2 separate regions of the Homo sapiens genome follow, and region 2 is linked to region 1. The links come from fine-mapping of genetic effects on gene expression. Tissue or cell type: whole blood. Region 1 holds a variant in brackets; the other region holds the start of a gene. All regions are shown on one strand. Distances are between the middles of the regions.

What was found. PIP is the estimated chance that this variant, and not a neighbour inherited with it, causes the effect.
Region 2: it holds the start of TRIQK, and the variant in region 1 is fine-mapped to the expression of TRIQK in whole blood (INTERVAL, PIP 0.98).

Annotation. Positions count from the first base shown.
Region 1 is chr8:92,879,436-92,886,722 of GRCh38, reverse strand. TRIQK (triple QxxK/R motif containing) reads left to right here. Exons shown (of 5, transcript NM_001171797.2): 5 at 1-3,189. The coding sequence ends at 101. Among named protein-coding and RNA genes, the nearest start is that of TRIQK, 83 kb to the left of the region's middle. The variant G/T (reference allele first, on the strand shown) is at 3,054.
Region 2 is chr8:92,959,978-92,971,749 of GRCh38, reverse strand. It overlaps TRIQK (triple QxxK/R motif containing), which reads left to right and starts at 5,606. Exons shown (of 5, transcript NM_001171797.2): 1 at 5,606-5,743. RefSeq lists a silencer at 5,510-5,619 and an enhancer at 6,290-6,399.

The DNA.
Region 1 (7,287 bases):
TACTTGCAGCTATATTGGCACTACTACTGGCTTTCTATGCTTTCTTTTATCTCAGACTCACCACGGATGTTGACCCTGATCTGGACCAAGATGAAGATTAGCTAAGCAACAATCAATGCATGAAAGAGAAATAACTTTACGAAAGCACCTTTTGGGACCAAAACTTTCAATACTGAAACTGTAACATCTTTAATTCTTTCTGCTAATATTTTCAGTTTGCAGACATATGATTTTTGATAGTTGCATAGGATGTCAGGAAAAGAACCTTACCTAGCAATGCAGTATAGTATGTGCTACTGGATACTTTTATATATCTTTCTGCTTTGACAGCCACCCTATACATGGTACATTTAGATGAAATGGGAACCAGATCCTAAATTTTTCAAATGTCATTGCCAATTTATGTGTATAATTCCATCACTTCCTGATGAGTAAGTCTATTTTTGTTCTATATACATCATAAGTTAGTATATATTCTTATTTACAGAAACATGCTCAAATCACATTCAGAAAGAACAAAAAGTCATGGGAAATTTTTTATTTTACAACAAAGCCCTGCTTTCTTTCTGGACGTATTTTACATCATTAGAGAGACTATCTGCACATACATCTACCATAATCTTTTTCCTTCTTTGCCAACTGTTCAGTGCACATGTGCTGCATCAGAAATGGCACCTGGATGACAGAAGCTCAAAGAGTCACATATGTCTCTAAAATAGAGTTCTTTTCCTCTTGGGCTGTCTGAACTGGTGTAAATAGAAGCTCAGTTGATCTTGGTTTTAATTAACTTATTACTCTATTAATATAACCTTGGAATTCTATTCTAATTATGTTGTTCTGGCTGCTTGTAGTATCAGTTCGCCCCTCTTGTTAGGGAGATATGTAACAATCTGTCATTTAATTGAGCAGTCTTTTTCACATAACAGTAATAGCAAAAATCCTACCTACTCAGAATCATCTTCTTAGGTTGTCTCCTAAATCTGAACAATACAGTTGTTTTATAAAATTACATTTTGTCTCTTGAGATTTAATCAATTAGAACTCTTTAGGGAGAAAATAAATAATAGAAGAAAATATATGCCTCATATTTCATATGTAATTATCTGTTGATATAATTTTTCAATGTATTTTGTATTTGTGGGAGCATAATGACCTGTACATTCAATATTTTTACTGGTAATTCAATTTTTAAATATGTTTTTACAATGCTTGAACACATAAACCTTAGAAAACTGGAAAATACGTGTCCACAGAAAGAGTTATTAGCTACTACCTTATGTAAAGATGCATAGAAAATGAAATTGTTGGAAACATGTGCACAAAGTGTTTTATATTATATACATTGTATTTATGAAGAATAAATAAAATATTAAGATTGTTTTCCTGCTAGCCAAGAGAAGAAATCCTTGGGAAATATCTAAGGAGTATATGGGGCTTTATAAGCACTGTTTCTAAAAGATATTCTCTGGTACTTTTGCAAAAAGTCGACTGTGACTGTGTAGCATTATGTTCTGTAGAATTTTTTTCAAGTAGCATAATTTATTTCATTGGTGTGAAAACAGCCAAAGGTTCCAATATCCTCACAAATCATTTATGCCAAACATCTGAGGGCAAAATTTAGCCGGTGTTATTTACTAGATTCTTCCCTTTGAACTCACAGACTCAAGAGACAGACCAAGAGTTCTTATATACTCACCACAGCGGACCAATCCAAGTGGCATTTTTAGGAAAGGTTGCAGCATTTAATGCCATGTGGTATGTCTGTTCGTCAAGTGGGTGGCAAGGGAATATCCAAGCTGGCATTTTGGATATGATGGGCCTTTTACTTTCCTGAGTGACATGCCACATGTCAAGAAATACTGCTCCCCACCCCCCCACTCCCATCACATTTACGTGAACAATTTTCATTTAGTTATTTCCCGTTCCATATGGTGTTAAAACAGTCGTATTAAATAAAGATTATTTCTAGTTTTCAGTGGTAATTTAAATGAGAGGATATGTAATAATTGCTTATTAGATACTTATCCAAATGAAATATAACAGAGTTTACAGTACTTAAAATGGCTGGTTATGGTCTTGGAAATGTTTGAAAATTCATTATCCTGAAAAAAACTTTACCATTCTGTTTTACCCTTGAGGTATTTTTTGGGGAAAAATGTTTTTGATAACTATTAATCTAAATATAGTATAATTATAGGCAAATTTCACTGCCTAGTTTTATTGATATCCTGAGTCTACAGCTAGTCCATTCGTATGACTGATTGATTTATGATAGCTCCAGAGAACCATAAATTTCAAAGGCTAAACTCTCTGATTTTAGTAAATAGTAGGTAAAGTGACACAATATATGTTTACACAACACTGTTTTCATGAAATGCAAACTTTGCAAAACTCACATTAACTGGGAAGCAGCCAACCCTCTGTAGAGAAATCCCAGATTGGGAGTCTGGTTTGAATCTTTGAAGACAGAAAGGTGATATCCGGCCTGCTGTTTTAAAGGGACCACACTTTTGAATACCTACTGGTGTTTGGCAGAAATCTGAGACTGGCACCAGACACAAATTTTAGACATGGGTATCTTCCCTCCAGTAATTCACTGCTCAGAGTAATTTAGAAGACAAAAACAGAAAAAATTGTAATGATTTTTTAAGTGTTAGAATATGTTTGTTAACATACTCTGCAAAATAAATTTCAACTAATGCAATAGACTTAAAATATAGCCTATGGAATACTGTGATTGAAGTTTGAAGGCTTGCTGGTTCTTATTTTGCATGCAAGTTTAGACAGGGTAAAGAATGTATAAATTTATTTGAGATGAGATACAGTATTGTAAAAATATAACCTCATCTAGAATTGCTTTTAAAACAAGCAAAAGCCTATTTTAGTACAAATGTAGGGTGGGTAGTTGTTTTAAGGTAGCAAAATACTTCAAGATTTTCTATCTTTTTAATTTTTCATGAAGACAGAAGAAATACTTTCACCCCAACCAATGACTGTAAGATCTTGAGAGTATGTTCTTACTCATTTCTGTAATTGCAGTAGTGTAGTCATCT[G/T]CATATAAATTTAATAAATGCATGTTAAAATTTAAGTTGATGCCTTTTAGTCCTCTCAGAGTCTGTCACAGTTTCTTTGTGTAAATGATAAAAAAGTTTGAATTTAATCAATAAAACTTAAAAATCACAATATCAATCAACTCGGCATTTACCATTTATGGTCCTTGGTTGTACTGAGATATATACGTGTTTCATCCTGATTCTCTTTAAATCAAGACAACTAGCATTAAGGTCGCTATAAAATAGAAACATTGCTCTTTTCTAGGGAATCAAATATGCTATTTTTATCTTAGAATTTATTAAAAACTATACTCAATGTTTGAATTCAACTTAGCATGCATTTTCACTCCAAATGAAAATAGAACTCAATTTTCATTATAATGTTTATGTGACTACTAAAACACTGTATTTTCCAGGTTCTAAAATTATATACTCAATGATAATTCAGTAGAGCAAATTGTGCTATACATCAGCGTCAGAAATATACTTCTAGAAATTAAACCCAGCCTATTTTAATGTATTTCATCCATAACATAAAGTTGTTGAGCCAGAGACTACCTAAGATAATTTTGTATTCTCTCCTCACCAACAATTAGACTTCTTTACACTTACCTGGGGCTTCTCTGGGAGATTCCTACCACTTCTCCCTTAGCAGCACTGCCTTCTTTTATTAGAATTGCTCCAATGCAGCCTGGATAGAATGCTGTTTGCTAGATTTTGTTCCACTTAAACCATATTTAGAATCAGTGCAACCCACGGTTAAAAAAAAAATGTAGCAGATGAATTCAACCTACAGGAACATTCTTACCATTTTGTTGATATTTTAGCTATAAAGGTAAGTAGAGAGGGAACTGGGAGAGTCATGTAAAGAACTATATCAGTATGGAAATATCCATAGTGGGTCAGTAATTGAGTTAAACAATTGAACTGTAGCCACATTCAGCATAGTGCCTCCTTGTTATACAGTTTTTCTATCCCTAGCAACAGATATGTGATTCTTATTTCAAGAAAAATAAGATACGTTACATGCCAGAAGATTTTTTGATGACAGTACTCCCTCCTATTCTTCATTTTTTAAAACAACAACCAAATTGGTGGGGAGGCAGCCAAAATTTGAGGTACCAATGCCTCTCGAACAGATGTCGCACCATTATTTTTTAGCTCGTTTAGATGAATAAACATGTTAAACTGTGAAGTATTACATTTTAGATTTTTTCATTAAAAAAAGAGACAATCTGTTTACTGTCCTAATTGAGACAACAATCCTTGTGGTTGCCAGTTTTGGCAGTCATAACAATGAACTATAAATATTTGGACCAATCAAGTAAATGGTGACTATGAAGGCTATAGCATGTGTAAAGTTCTGTTTTCATGGGCACCCATCTTAGTATGGCATTTTTTTCCCTGACTTCTTCAAATACAATTGTTTGTGTGAAACTGAAGTATCATGGTAAGCCTAAAAGAAATTGATTTCAATATCTAATTTCTTTCTAGCTTATCATCCTTTTTAGTGTTCAACTATCCATCTGCTTGTAACAAATTGCTTCTGCAATTACTCTGTTGAATGTGACAAGGCAGGTCTTCACTGGATTGCCTTCTAGGTATGTCCTAGGATAACACAAAATTCAGAGGGATTTTCTTTTCATGTTGATATAGTGAGATTGAAGATATCTTTAAAGTCTCTTAAATTGCAGCAATTTCTAAAATAAGATTTTATAAACAATGTTGGATATAATTCTTGCTGTAGTGGCCATGAGGTGGAGTTTATAATCTTAGCGCCTATTAGGATGCTTTACACTAAACAACAGTGTGGAAGTTGGTAAACTAAAGAGAAATACCCCATACATGAAAATCTTTTATGATGCTACCTCCCAAACATTTGTGATCCAGATAGGGAGTGCCCTTCTAGGTAGCTTAAGAGTGCTTTTGCTCCCTTCTCCAGCTCTTCAACTTCTACCCTATTTGCCTTAATTCTAAGTTCCAGGCAGTCTCTCTTCTTTCAGTTTTTTTTTTTTTTGAACCTCACTTCTACTTTAATAGGTTAGCACTCTCACGTACTTAACTATGTACTTACTGTGTTAACTACCTCTACCCTTTTATTTAGACTCGTCATTGATCCTCACCTGCTTTTCCCCTCTCTCTTACTTCTTGCTTGCTTTTTTTATCACTAACCACATGTATTACACAAAAGTAGAGAGAATAATGTAATAATCTCAATCTACCCATTACCTAGTTTCAATAATTATTAATGTATCCCCACTCTTTTGCATATTTTCACCATTTTTTTATACTGAGGTATTTTAAAGCAGACTTCAGATATGATGTCATTTTACTGTAAATATTTCAGTATGCATCTCTAACTGACAAGAATGTTGGGATTTTTGTTGGTTGGTTTTTTGTTTTGTTTTGTTTTTATATTACCAGAAAGCTATTGGTAGAATATATATATATTTCCTAATATAATCTAATACTGTCAATATTCAGATGTCCCTAATTGTTTCCAAGATGGCTATTTACAAGAGATTTTAAAATTAAGTCCATGCTGAATTTGGTTGCGTGTCTCTTAAATTTCTTTTATTCTGTAAAAAAATAATCCAGGCCATTGAATTGCTGAAGAAAACAGCAATTTTGTTTGCTGTTTATTTGTCCTTTCGAATGTCAAGTAATCTAGATTTAGTACTTTTCATTGTGTTAGTCATTTTATTCCTATATTTTTCTTATTTTCTATAACCCGATAATGAGATATTAAGCTAGATTAGGTCCAGTTTTTTATGACTGTGGTTTGTTAGTTCTTAAGCTGAGAGTATTTCGTAGTACTTAATGAGTTACATAATACTTGGTGGTCTCATTTGTGATGTTAGACTTATCAGTGAATTGATGTGCTAGTAATGTGATTTCCTGCAAAATAAGGTTTTTTCATCAACATCACCTTTCCTGGATGCATTATCTCATCAGGCATTGCAAAATGGTGATTTTCTTTCATTCCTTCAGCATATATTAAGTGGAATTATTATGTTTAAAAATAATCTTCTTTATCAACTATTTGATCATCTGAAAATACAGCTTATACAGGAGAGGAAGGATAAATACTTGAGTCTTTCCCTTTCTTAAATTTCAGATTAATGAATTAGCACTCTCTAATGGTGGCCAATGAAGATTTGCCATTGTTATTGCTGTTGCTGCTTTTATTATTATAATCTAGTTATATATTTTATATATATGATGTGTTTCAGCCCATTGCCATCATCATTCTTTTCAGTACTGAGATGAGAATTCAATTATCATGCTTAATATTAGAAGTATTCTCATTAAAATCATGAGTTTAATGCTTTTACATTGTTATACATTTTTCTGAAAGTGATAGCCAGTGTAATTCAGTTTTTAAGACAGCAGGAATAAATAATAAATATGGCAAAAAATGGAAAAAACTAAAATTTTAAGATTATGTGGTTGACTAGAAAACTAAGAAAATATTGTATAAGATTTATATAACATATTTCTTTAGATAATAAGTATGTAATAATCAATAGTTTTATTGTTCTCTATATTAACACAATAATTAGAATAATTAGTTAAATATCATAATAGAAAAACGTGTTTCACCATTGCAATTAAAATTATGGACTATGTAGAAAAAATGAGCAGAAATGTATGAGTGTTCATTGAAAAAAAAGCTCTACAAGATAACATAATGAAGTTTTAATTGAAAAGACACCAACTGTCTCCATGGATAGGAAGGTTCAACATTGTACAAATGTAAATTTTCCTCTATTTTGTAAACAGAAAAGGGAAACTTGATCTGCAATATATTAAAGTATATTATAAAGTTATAGTAACTAAAATAATGTCATAGTCAATGAAAAGTAGACAGATCAACAGAAAAAAATGCAGTGTCCAGAAACAGATCTAAATATAAATATTCATTTAATGCATTATGTATGTCATGCAGATGGAAAGATAGATTAATTAAATGTATTGGAACAATTTAGTATCCTTTTAGAAATTAAAAGATGCCTATATCATGACTTAAAACAAGATGAATTCTGGTGGAATTTATGATTTCTATATAAAAAATGAAACCATAAAAAGTATTAGAAGAAATTATAGGTAGACGTTTTTAGAATCATTTTGTAAGGAAAATTATTTCTAGGCGTTGATTCATGAGTTAGAAATCATAAAGGGAATACTGTTGGATTATAACACATTAAATTAAAATCTAACATGCAGCCTGGTA
Region 2 (11,772 bases), 83 kb before region 1:
ATAGCATTGAGTTTGTAAATTACTTTGGGCAATATGGCCATTTTCAGGATATTGATATTTCCTATTCATGAGCATGGAGAATGTTTTTCCATTTGTTTGTGTCCTCTCTGATTTCCTTGAGCAGTGGTTTGTAGTTCTCCTTGAAGAGGTCCTTCACATCCCTTGTTAGCTGTATATCTAGGTATTTTATTCTCTTCGTAGCAATTGTGAATGGAAGTTCATTCATGATTTAGCTTTCTGCTTGTCTATTGTTGGTGTATAAAATTGCTTGTGATTTTTGCACATTGATGTTGTATCCTGAGACTTTTCTGATGTTGTTTAGCAGCTTAAGAAGCTTTTGGGCTGAGACAATGGGGTTTTCTAGCTACAGGATCATGTCATCTGCAAACAGAGACAGTTTGACTTCTCTCTTCCTATTTGAATACCCTTTATTTTTTTCTTTTGCCTGATTGCCCAGGCCATATCTTCCAATACCATGCTGAACAGGAGTGGTGAGAGAGGGCATCCTTGTCTTGTTCCCTTGTGTGTGTAACTTTAAACTATACTACAAGGCTACAGTAACCAAAGAAGCACGGTGTTGGTACAAAAACAGACACATAGACCAATGGAACAGATAGAGAACTCAGAAATAAGACCACACATCTACAACCATCTGATTTTTGACAAACAGGAAAAAAACAAGCAATGGGGAAAGGATTCCCTATTTAATAAACAGCGCTGGAAAAACTGACTAGCCATATGTAGAAAACTGAAACTAGACCCCGACCTTATACCTTATACAAAAAATAATTCAAGATGCATTAAAGACTTAAATGTAAAACCCAAAACTATAAAAACCCTAGAAGAAAATCTAGGCAGTACCATTCAGGACATAGACATGGGCAAAGATTTCATGACAAAAGATCAAAAGCAATTGCAACAAAAGCAAAAATTGAAAAATGAGACCTAATTAAACTAAAGAGCTTCTGCATAGCAAAAGAAACTATCATGAGTGAAAAGATAACCTACAGAATGGGAGACAATTTTTGCAGTCTATCCATCTGACAAAGGTCTAATATCTACAATCTACAGGGAACTTAAACAGATTTACAAGAGAAAAACAACCCCATTAAAAAGTGGGCAAAAGACACGAACAGGGACATCTCAAAAGAAGACATCTATGTGGCCAAGAAACATATGAAAAAAAGTTCAACATCACTGATCATTAGAGAAATGCAAACAAAACCTATAATGAGATACCATTTCACACCAGTCAGAATGGCAATTATTAAAAAGTCAAGAAACAACAGATGCTGGTGAGACTGTGGAGAAATAGGAACACTTTTACACTGTTGGTGGAAATGTAAATTAGTTCAACCATTGTGGAAGACAGTGTGGCAATTCCTTAAAGACCTAGAAGCAGAACTGCAGAACCACCATTCCACTCAGCAATCCCATTGCTTGGTATATACCCAAAGGAATACAAATCATTCTATTATAAAGATACATGCATGCGCATGTTCATTGCAGCACTATGCACCATAGCAAAGACATAGAATCAACCCAAATGCCCATCAATGATAGACTGGATAAAGAAAATGTGGTACATATACACCATGGAATACTATGCAGCCATAAAAAGGAATGAGATCATGTCCTTTGCAGGAACGTGAATGGAGCCAGAAGCCATTACCCTCGGCAAACTAATGTAAGAACAGAAAACCAAACACTGAATATTCTCACTTATAAGTGGGAGCTGAACAATGAGAACACATGGACACAGGGAGGGGAACAACATACACAGGGACCTGCTAGGGGAGGATTTGGAGAGGGAGAGCATCAGGATAAATAACTAATGCATGCTGGGCTTAATATCTAAGGGATGGGTTGATAGGTGCAGCAAACCAGCATGGCACAAGTTTACCTGTGTAACAAACCCACATATTCTGCAAATGTATCCTGGAACCTAAAATTTAAAAAAAATTAATTTTTTTTAAAAAAAGAAAATATAAACAAATGCACAAGCATAGTTGGAGATTTAACACCTTTCTTTCAATAAGTGATAGAATATGCTTAAAAATGTTGGTAAGGATCACTATGGCATATGTATACCTAAGTAACAAATCTGCACATTCTGCACATGTATCCTAGAACTTAAAGTAAAATGAAAAAATAAAATAAATAAATAAAATGTTTTTAAAAGCAAAAAAAAAAAACTGTCATAAGATATAGACTATAATCAACATTTAGAGCATACTGCATTCCATAATTTCAGAATACACATTTTTTTTCCAAATACACTGAGAACAGTCATAAAGATAAACCATATGTTGGGTTATAATATATGTGTCAATAATTTTCAATAAAATTTGAAATATTACAATATATATTTTCTAACTACAATGGAATTAAAAGTCAATAACTGTAAGATATTAGACAACTCTCAAATACTTGGAAACACAGAAACATAATTCTAAATATGTAACCAAAAAAGAGCCCATATAGCCAAGAAAATCCTAAGCAAAAAGAACAAAGAGGGGCATCATGTTACCTGACTTCAATCTATACTACAGTAACCAAAACAGCATGGTACTGGTACCAAAACAGATATATAGACCAGTGGAACAGAACTGAGGCCTCACAAATAACACCACACACCTACAACCATCTGATCTTTGACAAACCTGACAAAAACAAGCAATGGGGAAAGGATTCCCTATTTAATAAATGGTGTTGGGAAAACTGGCTAGCTATATGCAGGAAACTGAAACTGGACCCCTTCCTTATACCTTATATAAATATTAACTCAAGATGAATGAAAGACTTAAACGTAAGACCTAAAACCATAAAATCCCTAGAAGAAAACCTAGGCAATATCATTCGGGACATAAGCATGGGCAGAGACTTATAACTAAAATTCCAAAAGCAGTTGCAACAAAAGCCAAAATTGACAAATGGGATCTAATTAAACTGAAGAGCTTCTGTATAGCTGAAGAAATTATCATTAGAGTAAACAGGCAACCTACAGAATGGGAGAAACCTTTTGCAATCTATCCATCTGACAAAGGGCTAATATCCAGAATCTACAAGGAACTTAAACAAATTTACAAGAAAAAAACAAACAACCGCATCAAAAAGTGGGTGAAGGATATGAACAGACACTTTTCAAAAGAATACATTTATGCGTCCAATAAGCATATAAAAAAAGCTCATTATCACTGGTCATTACAGAAATGCAAATCAAAACCACAATGAGATACCATCTCATGCTAGTTAGAATGGTGATCATTAAAAAGGCAGGAAACAACAGATGCTGGAGAGGATGTGGAGAAATAGGAATGCTTTTACACTGTTGGTGGGAGTGTCAATTAGTTCAACCATTGTAGAAGACAGTGTGGTGATTCCTCAAGGATCTAGAACCAGAAACGCCATTTGACCCAGGAATTCCATTACTGGGTATATGCCCAAAGGATTATAAATCATGCTACTATAAAGACACATGCCAACGTATGTTTATTGCAGCACTATTCACAATAGCAAAGACTTGGAACCAACCCAAATGCCCATCAATAATAGACTGGATAAAGAAAATGTGGCACATATACACCATAGAATACTATGCAGCCAATTATATTTCAATTTGCTAGAAATGTAAGTCAATAATATATGTCTTTATATGGTAAAGAAATAAGCATATAACATACATCTGGAAGTTTTAATTTTACATTAAGCTATTTACTTCTTGTTGTATAATATCTTACATATGTGAGAATATTCAATGCATTTGCTGTACAAATGCATTGCTGTACATCTTTATGTAATGAAAATGGACTCAAGTACATTCACCACTTTTATTTAAATCTTACAGCATTTATTTATATATTTATTAATATATAATCATAACTCTTTCTTTTTAGTCTAAAACTAATTTTTTTTTTTTTTTTTTTTTGAGATGGAGTCCCACTCAGTTGCCCAGGCTGGAGTGCAATGATGCAATCTCGGCTCACTGCAACCTCTGCCTCCCGGGCTCAAGCAATTCTCCTGCCTCAGGCTCCTGAGTAGCTGGGATTACAGGTGCCTGCCACCATGCCTGCCTAATTTTTGTATTTTTAGTAGAGACGGGGTTTCACCATGTTGGCCAGGCTGGTCTGGAACTCCTGACCTCAGGCAATCCGTCCACCTCAGCTTCCCAAAGTGCTGGGATTACAGGCATGAACCACCACACCTGGCCAAACCAAATATTTTTAAAAGATTAAAGAAAATGGGGACTCTGAGTCATACAAATCAAGAAAGTTTTATAGAGAGTTATTCACATTTAGCAAGCTTTCAGAAGAATTTGGATATTCAGCAGGTCAAGAGTGTAAAATTATTTGTAATTGGAATGGGTTTCTTTTATTCCAACAATTGCATCACAGTACGATGAACATTTTAATTGAATCTCAAGGCACTTGTCCAGAGGTACTCTTTTTTTTTTTCTTTTTTCTTACTACAACCGTATCTATCAGACAAGATAAACCCTTCTGGGTTTTGGTTTAATATGGAAGGAAAAAGAGTTTCACTATTTTAAAGCCACACACATAAGTAATCTGGTTAAGTGTATTAATATAATCTCATTTAACTCTACCTTTATTTCTGGGAGAGGAACTGGAGACCAGAAAATGATTTAGGAGGACGGAAAATAAAATTACATTTTGGATTCAATTCCTGGCCATAATATTCTGTGAGATTTCAGAAAGCCTTCTGGTTAGTCTATTTATACTTGTCTCAGTTTTTTTTTTTTTTTTTTTTTTGTATGCTACTTTCTTTCTCAAGGGCTTTTGGAAAAAGATATGATGGGGCTGGCCTAGAGGAAGGTGACTTTTATGTGAGCAAGAGAAAAATTAAATTGGAGGTTGCATAATTTTTTGAAGGAATTTTAGATTTAGTTCACCACAATATTAAAAAATGATGGCTGCAGGCACTTAGATTTGTTGAATGGTTGAATAAATCTAGCCTTTCCTAGCCTGTGTTTCATTGTCCATAGGCTGTGGATAATACTCTTAGTGGGTTTTGTAAGGATTACATGAGTATAATTTATAAAGCATTTAATATTTGAATACTTTTCCAATAAGTAACATCTTAATATTTCATTCCCATTTTGTAGATGTGAAAATTGAGTACCCGAACATAGGCTCCTAAATCCTAATTGTCAGTCACGTTTTTGCAATCTTTCCTAAATTTATTAATCTCTGGTTAATGTTAATATAAAACGATTTTTTTTTCTTTTTTGCTGTTTGAATGGGCAATTAATTGATTGTTTACACAGACAGTGCGCCCTTCCACTTAGGGACGCTCCTTAGGGATGATCCTGTGAATTGGGGAGTGTGTGTGTGTGAGATGGGAGGGTTCAATAATCAAAATAACATATTTTTCCGTTTTATATTAACTAAACAAGTCACAGTCTTTATTTTTAATTTCTACAGTCACCTCGTGAGACAGGTATTAGAACTCCGGAGTGGCATCAAAATGAGGGAAAGGCCTCAGGGCCAGCGCCTTTGCGTCCTGGACCGGCGTACAGACGGGAGAAAGGCCGACCAATCCGAGAGCAGGCTGAGGCCTGGTCCCGCCCCTGGGGGCAGAGCCTCGCCTCTTTTCCGCCTCACCCTTTGGGAGTAGGGGTGTGCGGCTGGCTTGTCCCGCCCCTGCCCCTGAGTGACAGAACCGTGGACAGCAACATTTCCCACAGGACACGAAGTTTGTCGGCCCTTGCCTTGGCAGAGCTGAGGTGTGTGTCCGGCGAGTGCGAGGGGATTGGGGAGACCCTGCCCGGGAAGCTCGGGGTCCGGGAATGAAAGCGGGCGCACCTCTTTAGCGAGCCCTAAAGCGTTTGGGAGACGATCGTTCCGTCCCTGGGAGCGGCACTTGGTGGGGCTGGGCGGAGGGAGGCTCTGCAAGAGAAACCCGGAGTCCGGGAAACCCAGTAGGTACGGTGATCACTGAAGGACCCGTTCCCGTTGAGTAGGGCGCTGGCTGCGGGATGGGGGATGGAGGGTGCTGGGTTCGGTGGGCGTGGCCATTGCGGTTGCTAAGGAACGCGCGGTTCCCGCCCTGCCAGCGTGTCTGGCGCCAGCCGCTGGGCCCTGGACACGTTAGTCCCGCCCACCTCCCAAGGTCTTCCACGCGGCTCGGGATTGGCTCCTTTGTGCTGACCGATTACTCGCGGTCGCTTACTTGTCAGTGCAGCTCTCTGGGTTCTGCCGTTCCCTTTTGGGGCCCCCTTTCCCATGGTACTCCTCTTCACTCTTTTTCCTGCTTCCTCTTATTAATGAACGAGTATTTGCATACCAAAACATTTGCAGAGAAGAGATTCAGACAGGATTAGGTGGCTTTATCGGTGGTGGTGAGGTTGTGGGGCGGGGGTATTTTTCTTGGAGCTTGGTGTATTCCTGAATCCATCAGATGTTGGTGTCCGCGTGGATGACTAGGAAAAGGGGATTGGAGATTAGGTTTCTTCTACTTGGAGTTCTCTGCTGCTTGTTTGAGCTTAATAAGCCTCCTGAAGAAGTTGAAGCAATTTATTGCTAGAGGAGCCCCAATGTATAATCTCCCTTTCATTCTCTACTGTGGAGAGGTGTGCTAAACCTGTAGAGCTGTTTTTGCTTCACTCGGCTCATACTTAATGATCAACAAGTATGGTGTGAGATGGTAACCTCAGATAACCATTTTAAATCTGCCTTTGTTTGCTCATATACTCTGTCTCCTAATGATTCAGCACAACAAACATTCCAGAGAGAAAAAACAAAAGAGGTAAAAATCTTTTATTTTCCTCTGGCAGGTTTACAGTGCAAACCCCCAGGAAGGAAGCTTGTGCTGCTTGTTAACATTGGGAGGAGCATTGGCCTACAAGTCAGGAAACTGGCATGGTTAAGAAATGTTTGTCCTTGGGCAATAATTGTTTCGTTATCTGTAAATTGGAGACTCTAGGATATGCCCTTCCTTCCTAAAAAAGGAGGAATAATTGGTTGTGAAAGTATCATTAAAGTAATGATCCACACAAATGTAAAGCATTATTGATTACACTTTTAATCTTTTTGTGTATATGATCCAAATTTATAAACACGTATAAGTATTGCCATTCAGCTTTAAGTATTTTCAAATTTCCCTTGTGATTTTTTTTTTTTTTAATCTTAGGGTTATTTAGAAATGGGGAAGAAATTAACTCATCTATTCATTATTGATTCTGTGTTGGTTCTGGTTAGGTAGAACCTGTAATGTCTTGAATGACACCTTTTCCTCTTTAATATCACTAGATATATATATATATATAGATATATATATATACCTGAAAAGATTGGGAAACATTACCTTTTAATGCGAGGATGACTAACCTTTTTGGTGTCATTTACCACTTTGAGAAACCAAGGAAAGCTATTGACTTGCTCCTCAGAAAAATGCACAATTTTAAGCCTAAATGGACCCTGTTTTTGTTCAACTTCTTTAGGGATAAGGAAATTATTCTCTCCCACTTGCCTCATCCTACAGAGAGACTAAGTAACTTTTACCCAAGGCTACATAGCTGGGAGCAGAGTGGGGCTTTTGCCTTTCTTCCACAGTGCCTCTTACCATAACATACCTTTGTTCAAGGCCTTCAGTCATCTGCAGTTCCCTTTTGGGGCCCCCTTTCCCATTGTACTTTTTTGTTTTTTTGAGCACTAACAAACGGGAACTACTAATGTTCAGTTATTTGTTGCTATCTTACAAAACCATGTAATCTATGTTTTATCCCAAATGCCCTTTGATCATAACCTCTTAAAGCATATTCTGGTATTTAAACAAGTAAAAAGAACATTGTCAAATATTTTGAGAAAAATGTGAAACTGTATTTTTTTTTTTTTTTTGAGACGGAGTTTCACTCTTGTTGCCCAGGCTGGAGTGCAATGGCGCTATCTCAGCTCACCACAACCTCTGCCTTCCTGGTTCAAGCAATTCTCCTGCCTCAGCCTCCCGAGTAGCTGGGATTACAGGAGTGCACCACCACACCTGGCTAATTTTGTATTTTTAGTACAGACGGGGTTTCTTCATGTTGGTCAGGCTGGTCTCGAACTCCCAACCTCAGGTGATCCGCCCGCCTCGGCCTCCCAAAGTGTTGAGATTACAGGGGTGAGCCACCGCGTCTGGCCAAAATTGTACTTTTGAGATGAACATTAAATCCATAAACTTTCTCATCTATCGAGGTCCGTTTTGGACAAAGAAAAGCTGATTATTTTTAGTACATGCCACTGGAATATCATTACTTGATACTTAGAACTGTTTTTTTTTTTTTAAACTTAAGTGAATAATCTTTTATAACATTTTAATTTGTGGCTAAAAAGAATTGTGGTTGTTTTCACTGTGGCTCTTTTCCTGATTTCTATATTCATATAGAAATCTGTAAATAGAGTTCATTATTTTCTTTGGTCTGATTCCCTATCTAGCTTTATCAATAAAAGTGGATATCAGTAGTAGATATAAAAAGTTGTTATTGGATAAGGAAAAACTTGAAGAGGTAAAGAGCTATTGCTTTTGTAAAACGCATAAATGTATATATGCACCTGTTATTTCGTTAGTACTTGTAATTTTATTTGAACTGTTTGGTACTTGACTCTTTCTTTATTCAACTCTGTTCATTTCTGGTAGAGAAACAGGGATAAAGACAAATGGCTTAGAGAGAGCATTACAATGGATTTAGAGATTTTTAGGGGCTCAATAATAGCTCTTTCCTTCCTCTCTTGCGTTTGTAAACAGACATGTGGCGCCTGCCATATCAACTTCAACTTGCAATAACAAGTCGAGTGGGGATAGTGCTTTATGCAAAAATGAGACCAAAAATGAGTACTAGTACTTCCTATCCCCTTTTACTCCTACTCTCTTTCCCAGAACCTAGACTTTAGTTCAGCTGAGAGAAAAATTTCAGATTGCGGAACAGATACGCTTACTTACAATTACTGCTTTTCATGGTGTAGGGCAGAGGTCTAATAAAAGATGGAAAATCTCCAGTGCTTAGTGGTTTATAATGGGTTAGCTCTACCGGTGGAGTAATGTGAACCGGTCAGATACGTCTCTTTTTGGTAAGCTGTGAAGAAGAAGTGGGATCTGAGGCCAGGACTGTTAATCTAGTGCTCTGGTTTTCCATTTCCAGAATGGTTTTCCATTCTGGGTGACACCTCTGGGGTATTTGAAATATGCCAGGGTGTTTTAAAATTATTCTAATTTCTTTAAAGGAAGTACTACTGGCTTTTGGGATCCTGAAGTTCAGAGATGATAAATATTGTGTAATGTAGAGATCTATCAGCTCAATAAAGAATTTCTTTGTCTCACTCCAATGCCAAAGCATCTTTTGAGAGTCCCTGCTCCAGTGGACATTCTTCTATGTAGAAACGCGAAACTCAGCCAGCTTTCTCCTTAATCTTTGTGCATATGTATCTGTGTTTTTGATATCAGTAGATTTGACTCAAAGTGTTAATGTCTTAAACAATATTACTTAGAATTTTGTGGTTTTTTGGTATTCATCCAGAGTGACTAAAATAATACTAATGGAAAATAGTGATACATATTTGATCATATTTGATATTCTCAAATTTCCTATTAAACAGATAAGGATCATGTAGGCCTAGAGCTAATTTTTCATACCATTATATATATTTATACCTTTTTTATATGGTAGAAATGTTCAGCATCTTTGCAACAATAGAGTGAGATAGGTGTATGTTTCCATGAAAAATAAATGATTCCTACTTAATTCGTAATTTTGAAATGTTAAACAATAAAAAGGTAAATACTCCATATTCAGTGGTTTAACAGTTTTTTTGACTCAAAAGGCAAAGACAGTTCCATTAATGAAAGACTCTTGTCAGTCACATGACTTTTAAGCCACTGAAGTGGAGAATGACAACAGCATAAACTAGCTTAGTTCTTCTGTAGTAGTATTATTTAGTGACGTAGTTGCAAAAATAACAGACCAATTGTATTGAACAATTTAAAAGTTTGACAATGACAAAAGAAAGATAGGTTAATCCAAATAACATTTGTTTTACATACTTTGAATGTTAAAATATTCAAATATTGCAGGGTATGGAATAATGAACTATATGGATACCTGTGGCAAAGTCCTAATTGTGGATTATAGTTTATTACCTATAGCAGGTGGAAGGTGCACTGTATTGAAAGTTTTAGACTTAGCTCTGTAGGTAGAAATATCCTTTGTTGGGTATTAATAACTTTCCAGTCAAGTTAATTATCTATGTGGAAAAGGTTGAAGATTTTTCTTTTTTTTGAACAACATGCTTGAGCATTATAATACGTTGCCGTCATTCACAGTGACTCAGTATATAGTACTGAATCTCTCTGGGCAGAGGAGGTATATCAGATTTTTTTTTTCAGGATGGGAAGGTACAGTTTTAAAAAGAACCTCCCAGTTTCCGATTCTGCTTTGTCTGCATTCCTAGGGAGTTCATTTTCTGCCTCCCCTCAACACCGTCCCCTTTATCGATAAATGGAAAACACTGGCTTATGTAGAAATTATCTATACAGTTTTTTCAGTGCTAAAATATTCTGGATAAATTAACATTTGAAAATAAATCAAGTGAAACAAGACATCCTACAAAATCAAGGCAGAGGTTATCAGTAGAAAACTCAGAGGCATACCTATGAATCTCTAAAAATAATTTTAAGCTAAGGAAGGAAGAACATTTCGGGGAGTTATTTGCCGTCCAACACATTCAAGAATACATGGCTTCTATGGATAGGAGAACTTCATGTAAAAATAACAGACAGTGATGAAGTGTCAGAGAGAAGATAGTAAGAGAAAACAAAATGATGAGAAACTGAAAATATGAGAGCCGTATCAGTTTTGTTCCTCTTATAACACATTACCCCACATTTAGTGACTTAAAATAACACAAATTTAGTATCTGACAGTTCTGTGGTTCAGAAGTCTGATATAGGTCACTTTGGGCTGAAATCAAGGTCGGGACAGGGCTGCATTCCTTTCTGGAGGCTCTAGGAGAGATGGTTGGTTTCCTTGTCTTTTGTAGTTTCTGGAGGCTGCTCACATTCCTTGGCTTATGGCCTCCTTCTTCCAACGTCAAAGCCAGCAACATTGCAGCAATCTGACTTATTTTGTTGTCATGTCTCCTGACCACATCTGGAAGGGTTATCTACTTTTGAAGACACATCCAGATAATTCAGGACAATCTGTCCATTTTGAGGTTCTTCATTGAATCATGTCTGCAAAGTCCCTTCTGCAATCTAAGGTAACTTATTTGTAGGTTATGGGAATTAGGACTTGAACATTTTTGGATTGGGGGAACATTATTTTGCCTATCACAAAAGCATTAAAAATCTATATTTGAGGCAGTAACAAATAGAATTGATGTCGTTGTACAAAGTTTAGTCGGTGTAGAGAATAGATTTGAGAGGTTATTTTAGTTAAAAAATTGGAAATCATAAAAAGATGATATATGGAGAATAAAGAATAGAGTCCACTGTGTGGATATTTGGAGTCTCTGAAAAAGAGACAAGAAGATAGATACATAGATAGATAGATAGATAGACAAATAGTTGTTCCTGAAGAAAAGAACAGAGTATTTGAAAGAAAAATAATTTTAAAAATAAATAGGAGAAAAAACTTTCCTGAGCTGAAAAAGACCTATGAAGGAAGAAAGGGCCTTTTTTATGTAAGGCATGACAACTTAAAGAGACACAAAAATCACAAAATTGTCAAATTATGATGATAAAGAAAATAAATGTTTTCCATATCAAGAAAGAAAAGAAAAA